Homo sapiens: one gene and its partners. The gene in region 1 interacts genetically with each later gene. Each region holds a gene or a part of one and is shown on either strand. Other genes may lie near its edges. The genes, in order: TRPC6, DOLPP1 and SAP30L.

Region 1 (3,648 bases):
TGCCTCCCCACCTCCCGCCACAACCTTTTTCTTTGGTGTAATATCTATTTTCCAAACTTTATTTCTTTTTAAAATTCTCCTTCTTTCCTAGATGATTGACATTAGATATGTCTACTCCTTTAAGCAAAGATACCACCACTGACCTACAGAAGTGTGGCTTTACTCTCTGACCCCAAAGGGGCAGTCACATCAGAACATGACAGTCCAGCAGCAGTACGAGGTATTTCCAAATAAAATTAAAGGGCTGATTTTCTTAACAAGACATATTTATTGAATGGTAAGTGAAATCAATAAAAGAGAACATGTGCGACACAATGATTTCTTATACATATGTAGTGGTCTAGAACGCAGAAAGAATCCTATAATCTAGTATACCCTTTGAAATGGCATCTATAACCATAAAGCCAAGACCTAGACTTTGGTGAAAGATTGCAGTGTGGAAGCTTGCTCTTCCAGGGGAAAAGCACGTGTAAAAACCACCTTCAAATCTGGCTCCCCTTCTATTAGGAGTAATCGTCTCCCCCAACCACTTGGATTAATGGTGGGTCTCATAGCTGATGACTTTGAAGCTCTGTATTCTGCATGGAAATGACCTGTTTTGTGTTGAAACCTCCCCTGGCTTGAAGTAATCAACTCTACTGGTAACATATTATTATCGTGAAGCATTTTTAGGGTGCCAGCATTGTAGGTTGTGGAATGATTGCCAGATGTGCTTAAAAGTCCACATTTATTCTGTAACAAAATGTTTGCCTCCAGGAAGACATTGCATAATTTTTTTTCTCTAGACAGTTTATGCTCCTTGAGTTGTAAGAAGTAACTTCATAAGGCAATTCATCTTAAAGAGGGTAAAAGTCATAAAAGGAAAACATTTTCTTGAGTCCATTCTTATTTTTCTCCCTCTTTCATAAAAAATGCCAAATATAATTGGTTCCAGTTGGATAAAATTACCATGTGTGTGATTGCTCTTTGTTTAGGAATCTTCTGATGGCTTTCAATACATGCAGAAGTGTTCATCCATATGCCAAGTTTCAATTAAACTTTGGCATCTAAAATTTGGTATGCTGCTCAAGAGGCTTTAAGCCATTGGAACTGACTGAATCACAGTTCTTATAGAATCTCTGTTTAGAGCAGAATACAGAAATGAGTGTTACACATACTCAAACAACCTATATGATTGCAGCATAACTGTTCTCCACCTAATTCAGCTCTCAGCCATGACAAAGAGGAGAAATGATGTTAACTAGAATTACATACAGTTTAATGTAAGTTGCTGTTTCTGTGGAGGACTAATCCAAAATATTTATATATATTTGGGGCAACTAACATTTTTTGAATACCTATTCTGTAGCAGGTTCTTTTCTAGTTGTCATACAAATGTAATTTGATCTTCAGAGCATCTACTCAGCTATTTTTAGCATCCGTTTTATAAAGAACAATGCTGAAATTTAGAAATGTTAAACAATGTGCAGTAAGTTACACAGCCAGTAGGTTGTTGTCAAGTGGGCAAAACCCAATATATTTGGGGCTGGAACACGTGGACCATGGGGCTGGCAGATTCTCTCAGTATCCCATATCTCAGTCCTCTATTCTCTCAGTATTCAGCCAGGCACAGCTGGATACAGGTGGATTATGCTCTTCAAAAGCGCACTCACCCCCATTCCTTCTCTTCTCCCTTTTCATAGGAATTTGGAAAGCCACACGTTGGCTCTGATCTACTGAACCAACATTCCTTGTGCTGTGCTCATTATATCTAAGTTATATCCTGGGTACGGATAGAAGACTGGAAGAAAAGGGCATAAATAGCAGTAATAAGTATGTTTAACCCCCACTTTCTCTTTCTGTTGAAATCTTAGCCATCTTTGGAGGTCAAGCTTTATATCTCACTTCTTTCATTAATTCATTAATCTATTTATTCATTCATCTCTGTTGATTTTATATGATTATGTCCAGCAAGAATAGAAATAATAGCTAGATTTATTAGCGACTTCTGTGTGCTAGGCCCTTCTCCAAGTGCTTTGTAGGTATTAACTCATTTAATCCGTATCACAAACCTATGAGATATGCATTTTTATAATCCTCACTTTACTGATAAGAAAAAAGAATGACAGTAAAAAGAAGGTAGGTGACTTGCCAAATGCTACACAGCTAGCAGTTGGCACAAATGGGAAGAAAGAAAGGGAAGAGCAAAGGATTTTGTTTTATCTCTTATTTCAATAAAGAGTGAAACTAGGTTTTGAAAAATTGCCAGTCTTTGTCACCAAAGGAAGACTATGAATGTTAACAAAATTGTGTCGATTGCTAATGTTACCAAAGATCCACAAACTGATCATGACTAAAGATTGCAAAAGGCAAGGCTTTCTTTTACTTTTCATTGCCATCATGTGGATAAAACTGCTTCTATGCTATAATGCAGGTTGTTTTAGAGACATTGACTCACATGACAGTGTGAAACTGGGGATTTAACCACAAGATTTGCATAATTTTTAAAGCATTTACATGGTATTCGTCTAAAAATATAAGTTGCCAGGAATCAATTACAGTGTGGATAGTCATGTTAAGATTGACTGCCTATTCAAAGCAGAGTTCATGTTTCCATTGCACCAGCTTTGGTTTGTGATACAAAAAGCATTTTGTCCTGACTTGTAGTAGCACAAAACCTTCACAAAAAAAAGAAAAAACAAAAAAACTAGGAAGAGTTCTTTTCATGGGAATCGCTAATAAAATTATCTTGAGAGTTAGGAGTCAAAATAAGAATTAGAAATGGCAATTTCTAAAGGTAACTTAAAAATTCTTTTAGGGAGCTAAACTGTTACAGATAAAAATCATTTTTGTTATTACTGAGTTAGCCTTCTTGAAACAGAATTTTGTATAGAGTAGATTGAAGGGTGGCAGAAGCAGCTATAAAAAGCTGATCCTGGGCAGTAAGAAAATCCCCACACTTAACCTAGGGGAGGGATTTCTGCAGGAACCCTTTTCTTGGAGGGGCATTCAGGGCCAGACACTGTATTCCATCTGGAAAGATTCTTAATTTATTTCAACAAACATTTGTTTAAGTTCCTTTGGTATGTTAGGCACCATTTTAGGGTAACCAATGAATACCATATAGCATGAAGTCTAAGCTTCTATCAATTGTAACCTGCTCTGACATTTTATGTATCTTTAAGAAATAAGCAAAAAGAAGTGTTATCAGTTAAATTATATCTTAGATTTTTATTTTATACCTCTTAAAACAGTTCTTTATACTCAATTAGATATAGATTTGGATCATATATAACTCTTATGCACATAATTAAAAAATAAACAAATTTGTTATGGTATTCCTAAGTTCCTTCACATTTGGGGATGGAGTCTTCAGAATCACTTTTCAACTCAGAAGCTTCAGTGCCCATATTTTTCCACAGGATTGTGCTCTGTGCCAAAAGGACATTGGTGATGAAGGATTTCTTTAAAACAATCTAAAGAATCCATAATAGACCAAAAGCTTTTGGTGCTAGACAATTAAACTGAGTTTGCAATTACATAGAGGTAGACTGTTTTGAGTAACAGTTCCAGAATGTTGCTAAACAAATCTGATTCAACACTGTTCCTTACGTACTCTCCACCCTTCTCAACACACACACACATACACACACACACACACACACACAC
Region 2 (3,562 bases), on another chromosome or scaffold:
GTGGACCCAAGTCTGTGTGGTGTCCAGAGAACGTCGGATTTCCCTGGAGGCCCAGGGCTCAGCCAGGGCAGCCCCAGCACAACAGTGTGTGGCTCTCATGTGCCTGCCGGGCTGCCTCCCAGGTCCCAGGCTCCACCTCTGGAGTCACCAGGCCGGGTTCACCTTCCTGCTTTGGCAGGAGGGATTGGTCTAGTGTCTGGAACAGGTCAGAGACTTGGACTTTAGTCCTGGTCCCACCTCCTTCTGGCTGTGTGACCTTGGGCGAGTCACATAGTTGCTCTGGAATTCAGTTTCTTCATCTATAGAATGGGAACAGTGAAGGCACCTGCTTTAAACGCATGCTGTGTGCACTTTAGTGCTAAGTAGTAGACAGCATCACGTATGGCTGTGACTGAGTTGGCACAATCGGCCGGTAAACAGGTGTCCCTGGCTGCCTGGCCTCCATTCTCCAGGCCCTGCCGGGACCTCCTTTCTGGATCAGGCCTTACTTGTAGGGGGCTGGTCCCTCTTCTGATGCCTGTGCCCTGTCCTCCTGATTCTGTTCTCTGTCTTGCCAGGTGATCTCTCTGGCCACCTCCTTGCCTACCTGAGCCTCAGCCCTGTATTTGTCATCGTCGGTTTCGTGACCCTCATCATATTTAAGCGGGAGCTGCACACGGTGAGTCTGTCTTGCCCACACCCTCCCCACCCCACCCCCAGTGCCCCCACCCTGCTTTGGGAAGCCCGTCCGCCCCTCAGTCCAGGGTTCTCATCCCTGCGTCCACCTGTCTTGAGGTGCGTGGAGCCTCCTGGCTGGTTCTAGGTTACTCACCTGTTGGGCTGGGAGGTTCAGTCAGAGGCCATGGTCTTTGGGACTAGGTAGCAGCCAACAGGTGCACAGAGGCCCAGCTGACCATGCGTCTTCCCCAGCAGATCTCCTTCCTTGGGGGCCTGGCACTGAACGAGGGGGTCAACTGGCTGATCAAAAACGTCATCCAGGAGCCACGGCCCTGTGGAGGTAGGGCCTCAGCTGCGAGGGCCTGAGGTTCCCCCAGGTTGGGGCGTTACTGGGAGGTCTGCATCCCCCCGTGATGCCCTGGTCTCCTCTCTCTCCCAGGCCCCCACACAGCAGTGGGCACCAAGTACGGGATGCCCTCCAGCCATTCCCAGTTTATGTGGTTCTTCTCCGTCTATTCCTTCCTTTTCCTGTATTTAAGGTGAGTTTCCACCCCGGTCAGGATGGCCCTGAACTTGCTCAGGCCGAGTTCTGCTAGGGACTCACTGCTAGCCCTTTGGATGCCCCTGGGGTGGGAGGGGCTGCAGCGGAGGCAGAAGGTACCCAGGGAGCATTTGGATGGGGCCAGGGACTGTTTGGGAGGCCTGGGCTGGGCTGTGGGCTGAGGTCATCTGGTGGGCCTGTTTTCGCAGAATGCACCAAACAAACAACGCCAGGTTCCTGGACTTGCTGTGGAGGCACGTGCTCTCCCTGGGACTCCTCGCTGTGGCCTTCCTAGTCTCCTACAGCAGGTATGGAGGAGGGAGAGCCCCTGCCTGCACCCTGCCCATGTGGGGTCCTGCTGGTTCCTGGTCCCTGTCGGACCCCACCATGGACCCTAGTCCCAGAACCTGTAGTGCAGGACTGGAAAAGGGGTCCCAGACCTCTAGTTTTAAAAGGACAGGGCTCCAGCTGCCTCTTCTAGCCCAGTCCGCACTGAGCCCAAGATTCTGGGACCAACTCCACGTATCAGCCATCTCTTCCCAGCGTTCCGGAGGAGCCCACTGTAGACAAATTCAGAGGTCAAGGGCTAGATGGGAGGCAGGCAGATCCCAGCTGGCCCTTCACTGCTACAGATGGGAGAGCTGTGTTTGGGGTCCAGCGCCCTCCCACTTGGAAATGGATCTGAGGCTGTGCCCCGTGGAGTCAGTGTCCTGTCTGTGTCTCCACATGTGTGGGCACAGGTCCCTGGGAAGCTGGCACATGGGCAGTGGGGATTGTGCGGGCCTGTGTCTGACTGGCTCTCACATACTTCGCTTCTGGCCTTGGCCCAGGGTCTACCTGCTGTACCACACCTGGAGCCAGGTGCTCTATGGAGGCATCGCTGGAGGCCTCATGGCCATCGCCTGGTTCATCTTCACCCAGGAGGTCCTCACCCCGCTGTTCCCCAGGATAGCAGCCTGGTAACTGCCTCCTGCCTTCCTGGGCACTGTGGGCCCTGTCCCCTCCTGTGGGTGGGGCCATCAGTGGGCGGACCTAGGAGTCTTGACCCCAGCCCCTGTCTCCCTGGGAAGGCCCCAGTGCCCCAGGGTTTGTGGCAGAGACACAGGGGGTTTCCTCAGGCCCGGAAGCCAGAGTGCCATCCTCTGTCCTCGCCTAGGTTCTCAGGGACTTAGAAGCCTGAGTCCTGCTGGGCTGTGTGTGCCGTGGGACAGTGCCCCTGCCTGAGGTGACACAGGTGACATAGCTGGGTCTCTCAGTGGCTCTGGGGTCTCAGGCCAGGCAAAGACTCTAGGCAGTCGGGGCGGGTGCCGTGCCAGCCCCGGGCAATGGTGGGGATGGCTGGCATGGTAACAGACTCATGCCCTGATGTGCCCCTGGCTCTCTGATGTCTGTCTCTCCAGGCCTGTCTCCGAGTTCTTCCTAATCCGAGACACAAGCCTCATTCCCAACGTACTCTGGTTTGAGTACACGGTAACCCGGGCAGAAGCCAGGTGAGTTCAGGGGACAGCAGTGCTCACTGGGCCAGCCACAGGCAGCCTCTGCCTCCATGTTTGGAGGGCTCTCCGGGAGCCTCGCGCCTGCCTAAGCACTTCTCTTGCATTAACTCATTGAATCCTGCTGTGACCCCCATTTTGCAGATGATGAAACTGAAGCTTGGAGAAGAGAAGTCACTTGCTCGAGATCTTGCAGATAGTGGGTGGGGGAGCAGGGTGGTGAACCCAGGCTGTCTGGCCCAGGGCCCATGCTTTTAACCTCTGCAGCCCAGAACCAGAGAGCTGGGCAGCTGAGGTTCTCAGGGCTCCTGTGTGTGGACATCCCTAGGGATTAGTCCAGATGCTTTCTTAGGCCTGGGTAAACTGAGGCACATTGAGTTAGGAGGCCAGCCTGTAGTTGTGCAGCAAGTCAGGACAGAGCTGAGCTTTGGAGACTCCTGACTCATGCTGTTTCATTCACCCCAAATCCTGGGTGAGGTTCTTAGGGGAGTGGGAAGGCTGGCTTTTCTTTTTTTTCTTTTTTTTTTTTTTTGAGACGGAGTCTCGCTCTGTCGCCCAGGCTGGAGTGCAGTGGCGCGATCTCGGCTCACTGCAACCTCTGCCTCCCTTGTTCACACCATTCTCCTGCCTCAGCCTCCCGAGTAGCTGGGACTACAGGCGCCCGCCACCACGCCCGGCTAATTTTTTGTATTTTTTAGTAGAGACGGGGTTTCACCGTGTTAGCCAGGATGGTCTCAATCTCCTGACTTTGTGATCCACCCGCCTCGGCCTTCCAAAGTGCTGGGATTACAGGTGTGAGCCACCTCGCCCGGCCGAAGGCCGGCCCTTCTCTGGGTTCAGAGGGGAGCTGAGGCTCCACAGGAAGCCTGGG
Region 3 (3,748 bases), on another chromosome or scaffold:
CAGGAGTTCAAGACCAGCCTGTCCAACATGGCGAAACCCTATCTCCATTAAAAATACAAAAATCAGCCAGGCATGGCGGCAAACGCCTGTAATCCCAGCTATTCAGGAGGCTGAGGCAGGAGAATCGCTTCAACCCGGGAGGCGGAGGTTGCAGTGAGTCGAGATCTTGCCACTGCACTCCAGCCTGGGTGACAGAGTGAGACTCCGTCTCAAAAAAAAAAAAAAAAAAAAAAAAGAAAAAGAAAAAAAAAAGAAAAGAAAAAGGACAGGGGAGATTTTTTATTTATTAGAGACTTAATGAAGACTTATGTATAGGGCTTGGAAGTAAATTAGATAATATCTTTAAGAAATTAACCAGCCTCTTAGGTGCTGTGTGTACCTGACACCCTCACTTCCTATCTCTGGGCCTGTTTCAACCCTAAAATCAGAGGGGAAACGTGCACTCCCTTTCAGTTTAACAAGCAGTCTCTGATTTCCTCCAACTGTGGAGAAATTCTGATTCTAGAAGAGAATGGATGTTAACCACCTAAGCTCTTAGCTAGTCTACCTGAATATTAAATATCCCCTTAACTCATTTCCAATTCCTAATCATGAAGCAATCACTTAAGGCTTGTAGCAACAGATGTCAAACTAAAAAGTTCTTAATTGGTTGACAATAGGCACAGCTTCAGAATTGTTAACTAGAAGTGGTGAAGTCACACGGGAGGAGTTTCCTATAATAAGCCACAAAGAGCAGGGCAATCCGATTTAAATTTAAATATCCACCCCCTTATTTCAAAAGAAACTACCACTAAGAAAATTGATTTCTTTTCTTCCCCCCTCCAGTCACATCGACTGCAAGAGCCATTTCTCAAGACCTGGCCTTGGCCTTATTTCTGCCACATCCTAGAAAAACCCATTCCCACAGCTGCCTGCGAAGCAGCTAGCTCGGTGACCCTCTGCTGATACCGAGGATGCGGGAGCCAGGGAAGTAACTGCCACCTTTCTCTGTCTGAAGGAATAACAGGGTTCCTAGAAGGAGAGAGAAGTTGGAAAAGAGCCGGGTATCTTCATCACTCCCCGCTCCGATTCTTGCTCCTTCAAGGGCCAACAAAACTAACCCACCTCTCCCTGCTCTAAAGTCTAAACCAATAAAACAAGTTGGAAACTGCTGTCCAATCTTTCCAGGCAGCAGGAGTCCTGAAGCCCCCGCCCCCATCCTCCCGGATCTGGGTAGAATCACAGTCAGAGCATGTCAGCGCTGGAGCGGCCTTTGAAATGCGGAGTCCAACTCAGTTCTGCAGAGCCGGGGCGGCGAGGCCCACGGCGGGGAGTGCCCGGGGAGTCCCGACTGGAGCCCAGGGCAGCGGACGGAGAGCTGGGGGCGCCGGGGCCCAGACGCGAGCGGGGGCGGACTCACGCTCTTGTCGATGTCCAGCTTGAGTTTCTTCTGCGAGATGCTCTTCTGGACCCTCTTGCTGAAGGAGGCGTTGCCCGCGGGCCGGACGCAGCGCTCGCCGTCCTCGATGAGGCAGCAGCTCTGGCCGTAGCCCGGGGCGGCGGCAGCTGGGGCGGCGGGGGGCCCTTCGCGGCTGTCCTCCTCCGTGCTGAAGCCGTTCATCTCCCCGCCCCGGGCCGGTCCCTCTGGGGGAGGGTCCCCGGTAGGCCACTCCGCGGCCGCGCTTGCCGCGGGGCAGGTCGCTGAGACCCCCGCAGCCGAGGGTCCCAGAGTCCGTCTCCAGCCCGGGCGCTGCCCTGCCCCGCGTCCGAGAGGCCCGGCTCCCTCGGCCCCCGGCCCTCCGCCTCCGGAAGCCCCCTTCCTCCCGGCTCGAGGCCCCGGGGTCGGCTCCCGCGGCTCGCAGGGCCCCGCCGGGGGTCACCCGGAGGAGCCTTCTGCCGGGGGCCCAGAACCGTAACCCTGCAGCGGGGGTGTCCGGGAGGGCGTCCCAGGAAACAGCCGCTCCCCAAGGACTCCGGGCCTGGGTTGCCAGGGGGTTTCGAAGGCCCCTGCCGGCTCCCGCCTTCTTTCGGCAGCGGGGCAAACTCGCTGCCGGGCAGCTCCCCCGGGGTGGCGCGGCCTCCTCGCGCGGGGCCCGGCCTCGAACCCGCGGCACCCGGGCCCCGCGGCTCGTCCGGCCCACTCCACCCCTGCAGCCACTCGGCTGCGCCCCGAGTCCCGCGGCAGCCCCTGGGCCGCCCGGCCGCCGCCCGCCGAACGCTCCGCACCACAACAGTTCGCTCCCCCCGCCCTTCGCGGGACAGCGGAAGTCCCGCCTTCACGCGACCATTGGTCTCATTTGCTCTCTGGGCGGGGCTGCCGCCGCCGCTGGCGCGTCCCATTGGGCGTCGCCGCCGCCAGTCTCCGGCGCCAGGCTACTTCCTGGACTCTGCTGGGATGGGTTCAAAGTAGAGAAAGTGGAAGAGGAAAGAGTTACCCCAGCGAGAACCGGGAACCGGGCTGCAGACTCTCCGGCCCGGGGGAGGGATGGTGAGCAGGGGCCTGGCTGGACCGAGGGCCAGACTCCAGGAACAGAGGAACACATTCGGGGACAGACAGTAGAGACGCGGACGGGGACGCTGAGGGACAGACTTGGAGGAGGGGCATATGAGGGGACCTAAAGAGGATAGAGGTGCTATCAGGAGAGGGGCGGACTAATAAAATGAAAGGGCCAGGGCCAGAGGACTCGCGGATCCGTGGGAGGAAGGGTGGGTGAAATAGGACGGAAAGCCAGTCATGGCGGGAAAGACAGAGGGACAACCCCATACAGATACGTGGAAAGACATGCGGAGGAGGTGATGGGGGGATCTTGCAAGGCAGTCGCAATATTGGGGGTAGCCGATACCTTCCAGAGTGTGGAGAGTGGGACTGGCTTGGACGGCGCGGAAAGAAAAGGAGAGGGGGAAAGGAGACCCCGAGGGGTTTGGGCGACCCCTCCACTGGGAAGAATGGGAAGTCCGAATGAGGTCTGGAGGGTGGACTAGGTGAGCCGCGGGCAAGAGAAAGGGCTTCAGGGGAGATGAAGTGAAGGCTGGGAGTGGGGCCCAGGGGCCAATCTCGGAATCTAGATGGGGAAGGGCTGCGGTGTCTTGGGCTCTCCCTGGAGCTCCAAGCTGTAGTTCTATTGCTTTGAGTCCCCGGGTCTACCGGCGAAGCGACTGCGCCCTGCCAAGACCCTGCGCTTGGTTTCGGCGCCCAGGGCACCACCTCCCCTCCAGGAGGGGCCGTAGGATATGCTCTGGTCCAGCACTTCAGTCATGCCACTCTCCAACTGCGCAGCATGGGGACTGATGAGGTCCGAAAGGCGATGGGACCAGCCCAGGGTCGTGTAATTATGTAGGGCTGGGCAGCGTTTTATGGGCAGGGAAGAGGGGAGGCTGTGTTAGGTGATAGGTAAGCAAGTGTTAGTACTAGAGGGCATAGAAGGAGCTTCGGGTTTGTGTCCTGTTGTAAAAGGGAAAGCTACCAGTTTCCATGTTTAGAAGCAGGTGGCTGGTGATCTTAAGTTTTGCTCAGTGGCCATAAATGCATTTGTAGCATCTGAACTGGTAATTTCACACGTGGGACAGCCATCGTCGGAAATAGGCCTATCAGAGATAATATGAAGTACAGTGATGTTCATTATGGAATTATTTATAATAGGAAAAATAAAATAGAACCTCAGAGTTCCAAAAGGGAAGTGGTTAAGTAAACTACCTAAAATCTTCAGAAAGAGATTGTGCAGTTAGCATTTGAGGTAGTTTCAACATCAATGTAAACATTTTCTATAGA

The links.
Region 2: changes in TRPC6 (region 1) and DOLPP1 together harm fitness less than expected from each alone (positive genetic interaction), as found in Homo sapiens cells (one large-scale study listed by BioGRID).
Region 3: changes in TRPC6 (region 1) and SAP30L together harm fitness less than expected from each alone (positive genetic interaction), as found in Homo sapiens cells (one large-scale study listed by BioGRID).

The regions. Positions count from the first base shown.
Region 1 is NC_000011.10:101,573,934-101,577,581, reverse strand, and holds part of TRPC6 (short transient receptor potential channel 6), read left to right. Parts: intron 1-3,648. UniProt on the Homo sapiens protein: Forms a receptor-activated non-selective calcium permeant cation channel. Probably is operated by a phosphatidylinositol second messenger system activated by receptor tyrosine kinases or G-protein coupled receptors.
Region 2 is NC_000009.12:129,084,111-129,087,672, forward strand, and holds part of DOLPP1 (dolichyldiphosphatase 1), read left to right. Parts: intron 1-557; coding exon 558-658; intron 659-912; coding exon 913-997; intron 998-1,096; coding exon 1,097-1,196; intron 1,197-1,407; coding exon 1,408-1,506; intron 1,507-2,028; coding exon 2,029-2,157; intron 2,158-2,598; coding exon 2,599-2,688; intron 2,689-3,562. UniProt on the Homo sapiens protein: Required for efficient N-glycosylation. Necessary for maintaining optimal levels of dolichol-linked oligosaccharides. Hydrolyzes dolichyl pyrophosphate at a very high rate and dolichyl monophosphate at a much lower rate. Does not act on phosphatidate.
Region 3 is NC_000005.10:154,444,457-154,448,204, reverse strand, and holds the start of SAP30L (histone deacetylase complex subunit SAP30L), read right to left. Parts: upstream 2,209-3,748; 5' UTR 1,601-2,208; coding exon 1,400-1,600; intron 1-1,399.